Linked DNA regions of Homo sapiens: region 2 is linked to region 1. Evidence: fine-mapped expression QTL. Tissue or cell type: prefrontal cortex. Region 1 holds a variant in brackets; the other region holds the start of a gene. All regions are shown on one strand. Distances are between the middles of the regions.

Region 1 (8,109 bases):
GTTTCCTGGTAAGAACTGTGGAAAAAAAGACATTTAAGGTTTAAGACAAAGGAAGCTGCTCTAGCCCTGAAACAGCAAGGCTTAGGGGAAAACAGAAATGAACTGAGTGAATGGGAGGATTCTACCTGGATATAGAGAGGTGGGGGTAGAAGATTCAGTTCTGATGGGAATCACTCTTGATGGAAATGTCTGGGGCATTTCCCATACATACTCTAGGGTAGCTGAGGGACCCTGGGAAAGACAGAAGGGAAGGCGTTAGTACAAGAGGCCAGGCAGCTGCTGATTCCCCTATTCAGGTGGCCCACATAACAACCCTGAGACCTGTTGAGCCAGTTCTCAGAGCTCTGGAGGCAGCTTTCCTTGCTACTCCAGATTATTTTCCTAGGGAAGTCCTGGCCTCTGGTAGAAGCAGTATTCTTACAGTGTTACTGGATGATTCTTACAGTGTTACTGGTCCTGCTGCTTGTTCTTGTGGTCCGGTAATGAGATGCAGACAGACAGACTGGGAAAGACGGGAGTTTATTTCTGCAACTGATTACAGGGAGGTCGGAGTAGCACACCAGACCAACTCAAAGTTACAAGCTTTTCTTTAGCTTTTATATACAATTCAAGCTCTATGACTACCTGCGGGAATGTTTCCTAATTAATCTAAACTAGGGGTCTGCAGGTAGAAGTTTTTTTTTTGTTTTTTAGAAACAAAGCAATAAACGATTTGATTTAGAAATAAAACCATTCCCATTATTGCAGCATTATCATCAGTCACTGATTGCTAATGCTGTTTACGCTTCTTTTTCCCTGGGATGTCTGAACCTGGCAACTTTTCTTCCTGTTCTTCTATTTTCTTAGCAAACCCACATCAAGGGTGTCTGTTCGCGTTTGAAATTCATCGGCACCAGAAAGAGCTAACATGTTGGCAGTATCTAGAAAACCATCAACATGAGCATGGGACAGTTCGCTTTGCAGCTGATCCCACCATAGTGAGTGAGTACTTGCAGACAGAAGTTTCTTAATCTTAAGTTGGTCCTGGGATGGGTTGTATGTGCAGGAATGCTTTTATCACTCAGCTAGATCTGAGGTAGAGAAAGTATAGGTGGGGCTTTAAAGGGCTTGCTTTTTTTGTATTCTGGCTTTCGTACTCAGGCACCAGTTTCCCCCGATTCCTTATCCATTTTTCTTGCTTCTGCTTTAATGTTTAACTTGTACATTCATCATTATAGCAAAGGGCTTATGGAAATCTGGTTTTTCTACTTCTGCTTTAATGATCAGCTTACACATTCATCATTACAGCGAAGAGCTTATGGAGCTCTGAACTGCCACAATAGGAGAGGGCGAGCTTGAGATTTGTGTGGGAAGCCTGGCACCAAAAATCTGAGGAAGCTCTTCATTACAGGATAGGCCAGGATAATTAACTATACCTTTTACATGTTTTTTTTTTTTTTTTTTTTTTAAGGGAGGACGTCTTGCTCTGTTACCTATGCTGAAGTGCAGTGTTACAATCAAAGTTCACTGTAGCCTTAACACCTGGGCTCAAGTGATCCTCTTGCCTCAGCTTCCTGAGTGGCTGGAAATGCAGACACATGCCACCGTGCCCAGCTTCTACACTTTTTAAGAATCACAAAATCCACTTCCATTCTTCAAAAATTTATTATTTATTATTAAAAATCTCAAACAAACACAGACATATGGGGATACCAGCATTCCCCTCCTGGATACCAGGCAGCTTCAGCCCTGGCAGGCACGATAGAAGAAAATACTTGTTACACATCCTCATCAACTCTCAGAGGGATCCTGAGCCGTAGATGGAGGAAACGCAGACGGAGTAAGCACAGGTAAAAGATCTCCCCAGGAGCTGACACGGGCACAACGATACAAATCCCTGTGGAAACAGATGCTGGCGTGGGCTGCAGCTTCCTGCCACATCCCACTGATTTTGGTCACACCCCCCATACCTGCCGTGCCGGCGGGCTGTGAGCACAGCATGCTGCATGTGCCCATCTGGACAGCACAAGTGACAATGCACATGGCGAGGCCGTTTAAGGACAGGCTGAGTGATACGGGGCCAGCGATGAGCCTCCTCTGGAGACCCCCGAGCAAGGATCACCATAGAGAACTTTTCTTCCTTTGGTTTCTTGTTCTAAGATAAGGAACATAGAGACTGTTTAGAAGAAAAAGATATGGGAAAAAAGTTTGTACAGTCCCTTCTTCCCCATTCCTGCAGTCCTTTTTTACAATGTATAAATCATATACATGTAGGCCCTAAAGTCTCCAGGCTATTCTACAAATTATCCAACTCCTCCTAACTCTGATTCTTTTTCTTCCTGTTTTTCCAGGATGTTTGCTTCCTGCTGCAATATCCCCAGGTACCTACCCAGCTGAAGGGGATGGGATGGTACGCCTGTGAGAAGCTACAGGCCAGGTTGGTCAACTGGGGACAAGGGAGTTCATGGGGACACTGTGAACACATAAAAAAATGAGGTAAGACAAAAGAGCCATCAATCACAAAACTTAAAAACTGAGAATAATAGAGTCAAAAGGGGCCAGGGAGAAGGGAGGACAGGAGCAGTGGGTAGGAAGAGCCAGGGGAATCATTAGGTAGGAACTGGATAGGAACACAAAGTAGTGGAGAGTGGCTTAGCTTTACCATCTTACATTTCCCGGCCACGCCTAAGTTCAGATCCGTGTGGTGGGACAGGCAGAAGTAATACTCACCGGGGCAAAGACAAAACCAGGTCGAGGGTCCAAAGGTGACTTCTCTTTTCCCTGAAATCAAAGGAAATAAAAGAAATAAAGCTGGGCCAAGGGTCTATTTTCATAATTCAATCTCTGCACTCAGTAAACTGAGGACTCCTTTAACACTCAATTCTAATAACGATTGACTATGTCCTTTGAATTAAGCTGGCTGCATCTTTAATACTCCAAACAAAGAACTTTCTCTTTGCTGCAGGAGAAAGGCAAGAACTTGGCACATAGTACGGTGCTCTCCCTTGTCAGCAACCTCCACTCTCAAAAAAATCCCACTCCAGGACAATTAAATTTATGATTATACACTGGCTCATACTCTCCCCCAGTGACAAGGTTCTTAGCTCAGCAATGCCCTAGATTAGGAGTCCGCAAAGTTTCTTTTAAAGGGCCAGAGAGTAGGCAAAATCTATCTCTGTCCCAACTACTCAACTCTGCTGTTTGTAGTGTGAAAGCAGTCACAGACAACAGAGGCACAAATAAGCATGGCTTATATAAAAACAGGTGGCAGGTCGGATTTGATCCACAGGCTCTCATTTGCCAACCACTGCTCTGTATCATAATGACTTCATACGCCCAGTTTCCTGAGAGCCACCCTTGTCAATACATGACAGTCTCTTTCGTTTTCAAGAGAGTAACAGTAATTGGTGCCATATGGGTGGGGGAGTGAGGGAAGAAGAAGCCTTACCTTAAGGACCAGATCCCTGGCATCCATGAGAAGGCTGTGCCCAGCTTTTGTTCCATTCTCCACCAGTACCTGTTCACAAAAGGGGAAAATATGCAGAAGACTTGAATTACACGAAAGTATAAATGTCAGTAGCTGTGTAAGAGCAATCATAGAGGGAGAAGGAGTCCTAAAAAGAAATAGGCATTACATAATCAGGATGGAGACCCTCAAAGAGGGATAAAGAAACCCATGAAGGAGAAAAATGGTGAAGAATAAAGACAATGAGAGGAGCAAAGGCATGAAATCCATGAAGCTGCTTCAAGACTTAAGGAGAACAAGGAATTTTAACTCACCAGGAAATGA[C/G]CTGTCTTACGCCATAAGGTTTGAACTACCTCAGTGCGGTCAGCCTTGCTGGGCAGTTCACTTAAGGAAAAAGCTGACACTACTACATCAAACTGCACCTGAGGACCAAGACAAGGAACATGACAGACTCAACATCTCTACATCCCAAGAATACAACAAAGTCCTAGCCGCTAAATTTCTTTTATCTTCTAACACTCAGTGCTGGGCTGCAAAGCTCAAGCCATAGTTTTCCATCTGCCACATTCCACATTTAGAATATTCTAAACACTGCCACTTGCCTTGGGTGATACAGGTAGAAACTGTCTGAAAAAGACACCTGGAATATAAGGCTCCCCAGATTCTGAACCACCTGTGGAGAAAAGAAGAGGCAACTGTGAGTGTGTAGGAAGTTAGGTATAAACTGAAGAGATATCCAGATAAGAAACATGGCCCCAAGAATAGGTAAAGTGTATATCAAAAAGGGCAGGGATGAGCCAGGTATGGCGGTGCGTGCCTGTAATCCCAGCTACCCTAGAGGCTGAAGTGGGAGGATGGCTTGAGGCCAGGAGTTTGAGACCAGCCTGGGTAACATATGGAGACCCTACCTCTAATTAAAAAAAAAAAAAAAAGGGCAGGGAGAATATTAGGCCTCCTGTCCTTTGATTCTTACCCAACCCATCCTCAGTCCAGCAGAAACCTCTAATACCACCCTTTGCTTGACTATAACTTTAAAAGTAAACCAGATTCATCTTAATTTTTACCCTCTTCTCTACTTCCCAGTAAAACACTTTTACTAGTACCCCTTTGCTTTCTTAACTCCCTCAACTTTGGAAGTGCTCTTGCACTCACCTTTCAGTAGTTTTTCTGCCAAAACCAACATGGCAGCTGATCTGTCCACACACATATATTCACGTAGGCTCTGGCCCCAAATACTGTGAGCAGCCCTAAGATGGCAAAATTATTATAAATCACCAATTCCCATGACCAAGAGTCATCTCTACAAGAGGCCCATTTACACCCAACCCCACCCCTGGGAAAAGAGAGTGTTATGTTAAAGTAGTTGTATAGTTAGTAATAAAATAACTAATAGTGTTATTTTCTTGTTTTATTTACAACTCCTAAAAAAAAAAAGGTAGACTCAGCTGGGCACAGTGGCTCATGCTTGTAATCCCAGCACTTTGGGAGGCCAAGGTGGGCGGATCACAAGGTCAGGAGTTAGAGACCAGCCTGGCCAATATGGTGAAACCCCGTCTCTACTAAAAATACAAAAATTAGCTGGGTGTGGTGGCGTGCACCTGTAGTCCCAGCTACTCGGGAGGGTGAGGCAGGAGAATCACTTGAACCCAGGAGTGGAGGCTGCAGTGAGCCGAGATTGTGCCACTGCACTCCAGCCTGGGCGACAGAGTGAGACACCGTTTCAAAAAAGAAAAAAAAAAGGTAGACTCAAAATACTATTTGTAGGCAAAAACAACTTTGATTGATAATTCCTTTTCTTTTTAATTTTTCTACACATGCGCCTTTTTTTACTTGACATTTCTTTTAAGTTCTGGCCCCAATCCATATACCTTCTTCTGCCTTGCCTAATCTGATGGAAGAAACATTATAGATTCCCAACTTGCCTATTCTCCCTCTGGTTTTCCAGTCTGTTAATTTTGGAGTGGTGTAAGTATGGCTTTCTAGAGCTAAAATTGACCAAGATAGGGCTGAAGAAAGTTACTCACCAGGTGACAGAACCAGTACCTGAGCCAAAGTCCATCAAAGTTTGTGGCTGAAATGCTGGATTTCGAGCCCGGATCTGAAGAAATATACAACATCCCACAGTAGGGTAATTAGATACTTATTTAGGACCTTGATAAATGTGAATTAGGAGGCTATCACAGAGGATGTGAGATGTGAATGCCTTTTGAGATTCAATACAAATACCTTATGGGATAAGAATCTCCTAAAATAGTGATTCTAAACCTTTCTTGGGTCACAGAAAGCTTTCACAGGATAAAGAGAACGTCTTTATTTTGTGTTTTTTTTAAGAGATGAGGTCTCACTCTGTCACCAGGCTGGAGTACAGTGGAGATCACAGCTCACTGCAGCCTCAAACTGGCTCAAGCAATCCTCCTGCCTCAGCCTCCCAAACAGTTGGGACTGCAGGCAGGAGCCCACTATGTCCAGCGGAGATCCTCTTTAAAAAAAAAATGCATATGCAATGTCCCAAGAATCCCCATCCTAGAAAACTACTTTATGAATAGGGAACTGATGGTCAAAAAGTTCAGGTTGGAAGTTAAGGGACTTTCACCTCATGGAATGCTCTGGAGACTGCTGCAAAGCCACCATCCAGTCTTGCTGCCATATACACCAGGCTCAGTCCCTCAGTGTAGCTGCCATTAAAATCACAGAGTTGTACATACTAGTAAATAACCTTAATCCCATAATTACCTTCTAGATTTAGAAAATGACATCTTGGAAAGGGCTCTTCCAGCTCAGGCCTTTCACTCCCCAATACAAAAGGGTCCTGGGGAGACTTACAAACACTAAATTTTCAAACTTCAGTGTTCAAAACTTTGTACTTTAGCTTTTTCAAATACTAAATTGATCCTTTTAAGGTCAGGTGATATAAAAGAAAATACTAAATTGATTGTGTAATTGTACTCCCCCAACTCTCTTTCTAAAGTCTACCTTTGCTTTCTTGTGCACCTCTTCTGGGCCCCCTTACCTCAGTTCTTGCCAATGGTAGGTAGTTTTACGTAGTGCGTGTAGCACTGCTCCACGAAGTTTCTCCTCTGTCTGAGATAAGTCTGTGGTGAGAACAAGGACTGGAAGTCAGGACCTAGGGAGAACAGGGCTCAGATCCAATATCTGAATATACTGCCCACCCAGTCCTCCCCGACTCCACCTAAGAAAAGCCTTAAAGCTCAAGGGAGACGACAAACCTAGAGAAAAGTTTCAGGCAAGAATTAACGGTAACAACTACCACTAACAGATTGTATCAGATAGCATTTTATTTATAAGAATGGTTTATTCAGCTTAACCAATCCTGTCCCACAGGTTTGTTTTATATTAAAGGAAAGTGTGATACAAATTTAAAGGGTAAGCTGGGTGCGGTGGCTCACGCCTGTAAGCTCAGCACTTTGGGAGGCTGAGGCAGGCGGATCACGAGGTCAGGAGTTTGAGAACAGCCTGACCAACATGGTGAAAACCTTTCTCTACGAAAAATACAAAAATTAGCCAGGCGTGGTGGCGTGCACCTGTATTCCCAGCTACTTGGGAAGCTGAGGCAGGAGAATCACTTGAAACCGGGAGGCAGAGGTTGTGGTGAGCTGAGATCGCACCACTGCACTATAGCCTGGGCAACAGAGCAAGACTCTGTCTCAAAAAAAAAAAATTTTTTTTAAAGGGTAGGCCAAGGACATTATTTTTTGGATTTCTTCACTTCTCCAAAATTTAAGGTTTTGATGATCTCCACTATTCCTATGGAGAGGAAAGAAATCTGAAAATCTACGTCTCATGACTGTTCAGTTCAGTACTATTTAGCAAGTATCTACTGAACTACTGTGAGCCAGGTACTGTGAGGTGTGCAGGGAATGCAAGATGAATAAATGGTAGTGTCAAGGAGCTCACAATCATGAAACTAACTTGATGAATTATATTTACCCTCTTATCCCAGAAGAGGGTTTCAGTACTGGGCAGGGACCATCCAGGGACTTTATTTTACCTGAATAAAAACTTAGAAGGTCCTAATCCAGTGGACTTGCAGAAAAAAATAAATATCTAGATTTTAACAGTATATTGGTAGCCAGGCGCGGTGGTTCATGCCTGTAATCCTAGCACTTTGGGAGGCCAAGGTGGGCGGATCACCTGAGGTCAGAAGTTCGAGACTAGCCTGGCCACCATGATGAAACCCCGTCTCTACTAAAAATACAAGTAGCCGGGTGTGGTGGTGCACGCCTGTAATCCCAGCTACTGAAGAGGCTGAGGCAGGAAAATCACTTAAACCCGGGAGGCGGAGGTTGCAGTGAGCCGAGATCGAGCATTACACTTCAGCCTGGGTGACAGAGCAAGACTCTGTCTCAAAGCAAAAACAAAACAACAAAACAAACAAACAAACAAAAAACAGTATACTGGGACATTCTGACCTTTACCTAAGCAATCTCTAAAATAATCTACCTTCTTTTAGTAAGGCATCATTGTAACAACTGCTGCTCTGGTTAGAAAGTCAAATAAGAGACTTCAGTATCTGAGAGATTGTAGAATTATTTCTTACTCTTCATTTCTAACCGATATTTCAATCTCGCCCACTTTTTAATTATTCTTAAGTCCTACCTGGGTTTTCCAGGAATTTTTTCTCAAGATGCCTAGCCCGTCTTTGC
Region 2 (8,109 bases), 690 kb after region 1:
TTGGGTACACCTCCCAGACGAGGTGGTGGCTGGGCAGAGGGGCTCCTCACTTCCTAGTAGGGGTGGCCGGGCAGAGTCGCCCCTCACCTCCCGGACGGGGCGGCTGGCCGGGCGGGGGGCTGACCCCCCCACCTCCCTCCCGGACGGGGCGGCTGGCCGGGCGGGGGGCTGGCCCCCCCACCTCCCTCCCGGACGGGGCGGCTGGCTGGGCAGAGGGGCTCCTCACTTCCCAGTAGGGGCGGCTGGGCAGAGGCGCCCCTCACCTCCTGGACGGGGCAGCTGGCCGGGCGGGGGGCTGACCCCCCCACCTCCCTCCCGGACGGGGCGGCTGGCTGGGCAGAGGGGCTCCTCACTTCCCAGTAGGGGCGGCCGGGCAGAGGCGCCCCTCACCTCCCGGACGGGGCGGCTGGCCGGGTGGGGGGCTGACCCCCCCACCTCCCTCCCGGACGGGGCGGCTGGCCGGGCGGGGGGCTGACTCCCCCACCTCCCTCCTGGACGGGGTGGCTGGCCAGGCAGAGGGGCTCCTCACTTCCCAGTAGGGGCGGCTGGGCAGAGGCGCCCCTCACCTCCCGGACGGGGCGTCTGGCCGGGTGGGGGGCTGACTCCCCCACCTCCCTCCCGGACGGGGCGGCTGCCGGGCGGAGACGCTCCTCACTTCCCAGACGGGGTGGCTGCCGGGCGGAGGGGCTCCTCACTTCTCAGATGGGGCGGATGCTGGGCGGAGGGTCTCCTCACTTCTCAGACGGGGCGGCTGGGCAGAGACGCTCCTCACCTCCCAGACGGGGCGGCGGGGCAGAGGCGCTCCCCACATCTCAGACGATGGGCGGCCGGGCAGAGACGCTCCTCACTTCCCAGACGGGATGGCTGCCAGGAAGAGGCGCTCCTCACTTCCTAGATGGGATGGCGGCCGGTCAGAGACGCTCCTCACTTTCCAGACTGGGCAGCCAGGCAGAGGGGCTCCTCACGTCCCAGACGATGGGCGGCCAGGCAGAGACGCTCCTCACTTCCCAGACGGGGTGGCGGCCGGGCAGAGGCTGCAATCTCGGCACTTTGGGAGGCCAAGGCAGGCGGCTGGGAGATGGAGGTTGTAGCGAGCTGAGATCATGCCACTGCACTCCAGCCTGGGCACCATTGAGCACTGAGTGAACCAGACTCCGTCTGCAATCCCGGCACCTCGGGAGGCCAAGGCTGGCGGATCACTCGCGGTTAGGAGCTGGAGACCAGCCCGGCCAACACAGTGAAACCCCGTCTCCACCAAAAAAGTACGAAAACCAGTCAGGCGTGGTGGCGCGCGCCTGCAATCGCAGGCCCTCGGCAGGCTGAGGCAGGAGAATCAGGCAGGGAGGTTGCAGTGAACCGAGATGGCAGCAGTACAGTCCAGTTTCGGCTCGGCATCAGAGGGAGACAGTGGAAAGAGAGGGAGAGGGAGACCGAGAGGGAGAGGGGAGAGGGGAGAGGGGAGAGGGGAGAGGGGAGAGGGAGAGGGAGAGGCAGAGGCAGAGGCAGGGGCAGGGGCAGGGTAGCAAATCTTTTTTCTAGATAGGACTCCCCAGCTTCTCTGTGCTTTTAAGTCTCTGAAGTTGTTTTCACATTATCAACATAACAAACTCATTGGCAGTGGGGAGTGGTTTAGAGTCTGGTTTCTTTGTTTCTATTATTTAAAGCATAAGCATTTTATTAGTCTCAATTCCATTGTGAACTGCTGAATTTTCATCCCTAGTGTGAGAAGGTCACAATAGTATTTGTTTCAATAGATAACTCTTTCTCCCTGTGCTGTTTCTCACTGAGCTGTGGTGTTTATGCCTTAAGTACCTGTGTTATATGCTACATGTTGCTTTGAATTCTGGTATTTATGCATATCTGTATATGTAAGTATGTTAATGTACACTGATATTTTGCTGTATTTGCCAGTATGTTTATGTGAAAATTTTGGTCTTGGAAAATGGTGGGTGATGTGTAGCTTGTTATTTGGGTGTGTGTATTTATTTGTATATATTTATGTATTTACCTTCGTATTGTTTGGAGGTGTGCTTATGTCAGTGAACGAGAGTACAATTTGATGCATGTATGTTCAGTCCCTATTTGTATTTAAAAATAACTCACGTTGATGAAGTTATTTTTTAAAGTTAATTTTTTTGGCATTTACAGTCGGTGCTCTGTATCCATAGGTTCTGCTTCTGCAGATTCAGCCAACCATATATCAAAAATATTTGAGAAAAAATAATATAAAAAAATACAAATTAAAAACCAATACTATATAACAACTATTTGGATAGCATTTACATTGTAGGTATTATAAATAATTTAGAGGTGATTTAAAGTATTTGGGAGAATCTGTAGGTTATATGCAAATACCATGCCATTTTATAAAAGTGACATGAACATCCAAGGATTTTGGTATCCATGAGGGTTCCTGGAACCAATCCCCCAAAGATACCAAAGGAAGACTGTATTTTAAAATAAAGCTACTTCTTTACCTTTTTGTCAACTATTGCCTTGGGTTTACTTATTTAGGAATGCACTTCTGCAGAAAGTTTACCAATGTGTTATTGATCTCGAGATTGTATTAAAATAAAAGATTTATTTATTGTTTTCCTTTATTTAGTGAGTATTTCTGACTATTATTATGGGAATTAAATTGTTTATGCATTTATTTATTTAAAATGTAGAGCCATGATAGAAATTTGAAGGACATTCTCAGTAACTTTATGTCCTGTTAGAGGAAAGATTTGAAAGCATACTGGCTGGAGAGGCAGAAGATCTGGGTTCTGGTTTCTACTTAGTTTGAACTTTCTTGGACTTAGTCTCTGTATCTGTAAAATGAAGGACTGAATTAAGTTATCCTTACAGCCTTTTCTAACTCTTAAATTTTAGGATTGATTCTTAATGGTTTAAGATGTGTTAACAATGGAATTACCCTAAATGTCAAATCCCATTGTTTTTTAGGTAATAAAAATTATACTGAAATCATTTGAAGATATATTTAGTCATTGTAGAAAGGCAATTAAATACCCCTGCTTTACATAATTGAAAAGCAAGTAGTGTTTCCTTCACTAGGAATATAGAGTATAAAATCTCTTAAAAATTATTCTTAATGTGCACCAAAATTATTTATTACTGTTTTTTTGAGATGGAGTCTTGCTGTGTTGCCCAGGCTGGAGTGCAGTGGCAGCATCTTGGCTCACTGCAACCTCTGCCTCCTGGGTTCAAGTGGTTCTCCTGTCTTGGCCTCCCAAGTAGCTGGGATTACAGGTGCATGCCACCACACCTGGCTAATTTTTGTATCTTTAGTAGAGATGGGGTTTTACCACATTGGCCAGGCTTGTCTTGAACTGACCTCAAGTGATCTGCCCGCCTTGGCCTCCCAAAGTGCTGGGATTACAGGTGTGAGCCACCGTGCCCAGCCTCGTGTGCACCAAAGTTAAAATGTCTGAGAAAGAGGATGAAAAATTTTAAAGTTTTAGGGCCGGGTGTGGTGGCTCACGCCTGTAATCCTAGCACTTTGGGAAGCTGAGGCGGGTGAATCATGAGGTCAGGAGATCGAGACCATCCTGGCTAACACGGTGAAATCCCGTCTCTACTAAAAATACAAAAAATTAGCCGGGCGTGGTGGTATGCACCTGTAGCCCCAGCTACTCGGGAGGCTGAGGCGGGAGAATCGCTTGAACCTGGGAGGCCGAGGTTGCAGTGAGCCGAGATGGCGCCATTGCACTCCAGCCTGGGCTACACAGTGAGACTCCATCTCAAAAAAAAATTTTTAAAACATCCCTCCCTATTTTACAGCTAACGACATAGATTTTATAGGTTACAATACAAACTATTTCCTTTATGTTGGAAAATGATTTGAGGAAATGATTTTATGTATATTCATGATTTCTGCCTTGAACGTTTTACTTCTTTGTTAGTTTCACAGAATCAGCTTGAAGCTGTAATTAAAACTAAAAAAGTAAAGCAAAACTGCCAGGAATATTACATGACACTTTAAAAGATTTATTCAGAAGTTTAATATATTCACAAGGTACAAACTTTAAAGTTACAAAAAAGGCATAGAGTGAAAAGTCTACCCCAGTTCCCTGGTCACTCATTTTTGCTCCAGCCACTCACTTCTGCTCTTTGTAAGCGATAGTCTTGCCAGTGTCTTGTGTCTCTTTCCAGAGACTATGTAGAAGCAAATAATTTTTTATTTAAAAATGTTTATATTTGAATAGGTGATACATATAGATGGCAAGAAAATTCAAAAGGGCAGGCAGTGAAAATTTTCTTCGCTCACCCACAGTTCCCCAGTTTCTGTGTTTCCCTCTGCAGAGACAGTCATCCTTTCTTATATATCCTTCTGGATGTTGTCTATAAATATGGAGGCATTGTTAGTGTAGAGCATGGTGGTTTTTATGAGCCATCCCAAGTGTAGTATTTATTAAGATAGTGCATTAAAATGATAAAATTAATCATACATAGAAAATTACTGCAAAGTTTGGAAAAGATTGAGTAAAGTAGCTATTGTACTACATGGCTTTCGAAATTTCAAACAACACAGGTGTGCACTTCTTAAACTCTCTTCTTTATGGAGTATTATAATCTTAGTATAAATAAGTAGGAAGACATGAAACAAGAATATAGAAATTAAGCTGAGGACATTTTGTTTCCAGGATCTGGGAAAGAAAGAAGTTTATGAACTCACAAGTGATTGTAGAGCATCTCTGTGGAAATAAATGGTTAAGTCGGTTTGAAGCAAAGCCCTTCTGGGGCAGAAAAGCCTCCAGAACGCCAGATGTCGCTGTGGTTCCGCGGTGAGAGAGGGCGTGCGTCTCTGTGGTTATAAAGTTGGGGGTGGAGTGGCCGGGAGATGATGGCTGATGAAGAGGAAGAAGTCAAGCCGATCTTGCAGAAATTGCAGGTGGGGCCGTAGATTAAATTCTGTATGTGTTTTTGTTACTCCGAATGAAGCAGGGAGTCCAGTTTATGTACTGCCCGTGAATTCCTCGGCACACACGCGAAGCTGCGTGCGTCTGTGTGGTTACTATAACAACCCTCGAGGGTGCAGCCGCAGCCAGCCAGGGAGCCTCGTTGGAACCTCCTGCTGCCGACCTGACTGCGGTTAATTTCAGTCCTGTATGGAAGAAGATTTGTTGCTCCTAACTGTTCATGTACATTTTTAGAGAGGACGTTGTTTTCTCGATTCATCCATAGCGAATAGCATATACATGTGTGTGGCAGATCTGCATGAACTACTGTCACATGTTGTTTTGATCCCTACAAAAGCCATTTAACACCTTTCTGCTTTGAATTTGGCAACAATCACGCTAATGACCTGCACTGCAAGTGTCCTGGTTACTCCCCTTAGGATTTCAGTTTTGATTTCTTTCAACCTGTGTAATTCCACTTTGGGGTCTGATGCAGAGGGGTCCAGACTCCACATAGTCCACAGGTAAGACTAGTCTTTTGGACTTGGTAGGGAGGCGTTAACTAGTTGCTTGGCTCTTTGCCTTTAAGAACCCATGATTTTCCTTACACCTCAGGAACTCAGTTCTTCGTTCTAAGGCAGCCTGTAACTTAAATATTAGAACTATGACAGGCTTGTAACTTGCCTAAAGGTGTTTAACGCACAAATTTAAATACTGGTGAAATTTCTTTGTTCTTGGGTACATTAAAATAGTAACACTTTTTAGAGTGTTCCAGCTGATTTGGATTAACTTCATTTTATTCCCTAACTGTGACTGGCTGAAATCAGAGATTCTCAATTCTGGTTCTATATTAGAAACATTATTTGTGTATATATGTTTGTATATGCACAGAAAAAAATCTGAAAAGGTATACAAATCAGTGGTTATCACTGAGGTTCTTTGGGGTAATTTTGTACTTTCTTTTTTTTACATGTATCTATTTGAATTTTAACAACTTACATGTATTGATTTTGCCATGAAAAAATAAGTTTCTAAAAACATTCAGTCCAGAGGAAAACAAAACCAAACAATAAAACCAAACAACTTCTTGAATGTTTGGTTTAACAACTAAAACCAATCAATAAGCCCTTCTCTAAAACTCTTAATTTGCAGCCATGTTGATTGCAGGACAAAAGGAAATTGGTTGTAATTTTTTATGAGAATTGTCTTTTCCTAGGTTCATTTGTGGTAAATGTCCTAAGCAGCTTGGGAGAGGATACTTCCGTTATCTTGGGGTGGGGTCGGTGCAGGAATGGAATAAAGGAGTGAAGTAGAGAAGAGGAAAAGGATTAGATAATGGTGTTGCTGTTCATGGAGATGGTGGTAAACTTTGATTTCATTGTTAAAGACATTTTAGTGTAAAAAGAGTGTATAAATGGATATTTCTCAAAGTGTGTTTTACAGACAGTTTCATTACAGTCATCTGGGGTGCCTGTTAAAAATGTAGAATTTTGAGTTCTGCTAAACTGTTAAAATCAGAGTCTCTGCAGGCTGGGTCTTGGATATAATACAATAAAATTTGCAGAGGGTGCTAGTCTGTTCCCTTCATTCTGGATAGGATTTTAAATTAAGTATAGCACATATGTATTTGTTAGAACAGGGATAGTTAGTTAGTTAATTCAATCAAGTGTAGTGAATTAGAGCCTATCATGTCCCAAGTCCCGTTCTGGTGCTCAGGTGTAGCTCGAAACAAAACAGATTAAAGGCCTTTCCATCCTGGAGCTTACATTTCAGTGGTGGAGGCAGACAATAGACAATTAATGATAGGCCACATGATTTTAAATAAGTATGAAGAAAAATAAGAGTATGATATAACAGTAGAGGAGAGAAGGAATGGATTCATTTGGGTTGAGTAATTAGGGAAAACCTTTCTGGAATTGATATTTGACCTAAGATCTAAATGATGATGAGGAATAAGTTATGCAGAGATCTGGAGAAAGTGTCCAGGCATAAGGTCTTCCAGGTGGGCTGAGCTTGATGGGTTTGAGAAACTGCATGAAGGCAACTCTGGCTTGAGTATTGTAGGAGAGAGAATGGTGAGAGGTGAAGTTTGTGTCAGGATGGGTGGTGGTAGGTCAGCTCATACAGTCTTCTAGGTCATGATAAGGACTTGGATTTTATTCTGTCTGCAATGGGAAACTATTTGAAGGTTTGTGATATGATGTACGTTTTTTATAAGATCACTCCCACTACAGTGAGGAGAATGGGAGAGAACAGAAACAAGATGACTGGTTAAGAAGCTCTTGCAGTCCAGGCAAGTAATGAAGCTGATGTAATCCAGGAATGGTCATAGTGGGATGGAGACAGGTGGATGAATTCAGGATGTGTTGTGAAGATTGTTGATTACACTCGAAGGGAAGTGATTATATCTTTCTGCTGCTATCTATTTAGTTTCAGGAAAGAATAGGATATCTGTTATCTGAAATGCTTAGGACTCGAAGTTTTTTGGATTTTGGATTTTTTTGAATTTTGGAATATCTGCATATACATAATGAGATAACTTGGGGATGGGACCCAAATCTAAATATGAAACTTGGTGGCTTATGCCTGTAGTCCCAGCACTTTGGGAGGCTGAGGTGGGAGCATTGCTTGAAATCAGGAGTTTGAGACCAGCCTGGGCAACCTACGAGACTCTTTTTTTTTTTTTTTTGAGACGGAGTCTTGCTCTGTTGCCAGGCTGGAGGGCAGTGGCATGATCTTGGCTCACTGCAACCTCTGCCTCCCAGGTTCAAGCGATTCTCCTGCCTCAGCCTCCCGAGTAGGTGGGACTACAGGTGTGCGCCACCATGCCTGGCTAATTTTTGTATTTTTAGTAGAGACCGGGTTTCACCATGATGGCCAGGATGGTTTCGATCTCTTCATGATCCGTCTGCCTTGGACTACCAAAGTGCTAGGATTACAGGCATGAGCCACCACGCCTGGTGACCCTGTCTTTTAAAAAAGAAAAAAAAAAAATTGTTTCATTTACACTTTATACACATAGGCTGAAAGTAATTTGATACAATATTTTTAATAATTTTGTGCCTGAAACAACGTTTTGACCGCATTTTGACTGTGTGTCAGGTGTGGAATTTTCTACTTGTGGTGTCAGCGTTTCAAAAGTTTCAGATTTTGGAGGATTTCAGATTTTTGCATTAGGGATGCTTGACCTGTAGTAGAAAAGCTTTGC

What was found. PIP is the estimated chance that this variant, and not a neighbour inherited with it, causes the effect.
Region 2: TTC5 starts here. The variant in region 1 is fine-mapped to the expression of TTC5 in prefrontal cortex (CommonMind, PIP 0.95).

Annotation. Positions count from the first base shown.
Region 1 is chr14:20,990,552-20,998,660 of GRCh38, reverse strand. METTL17 (methyltransferase like 17) reads right to left here. Exons shown (of 14, transcript NM_022734.3): 3 at 8,063-8,109; 4 at 6,456-6,537; 5 at 6,039-6,120; 6 at 5,470-5,543; 7 at 4,598-4,692; 8 at 4,048-4,118; 9 at 3,760-3,867; 10 at 3,428-3,496; 11 at 2,710-2,760; 12 at 2,369-2,452; 13 at 1,950-2,134; 14 at 1,626-1,876. The coding sequence ends at 1,771. LOC101929718 (a long non-coding RNA gene) reads left to right here. Exons shown (of 4, transcript NR_110139.1): 2 at 847-981; 3 at 1,451-1,829; 4 at 2,331-2,824. Among named protein-coding and RNA genes, the nearest start is that of METTL17, 4.6 kb to the right of the region's middle. RefSeq lists enhancers at 1,333-2,532, 8,105-8,109. The variant C/G (reference allele first, on the strand shown) is at 3,770.
Region 2 is chr14:20,302,672-20,310,780 of GRCh38, reverse strand. It overlaps TTC5 (tetratricopeptide repeat domain 5), which reads left to right and starts at 4,830. Exons shown (of 10, transcript NM_138376.3): 1 at 4,830-4,894. The coding sequence starts at 4,844. RefSeq lists a silencer at 1,704-1,904 and an enhancer at 4,685-4,924.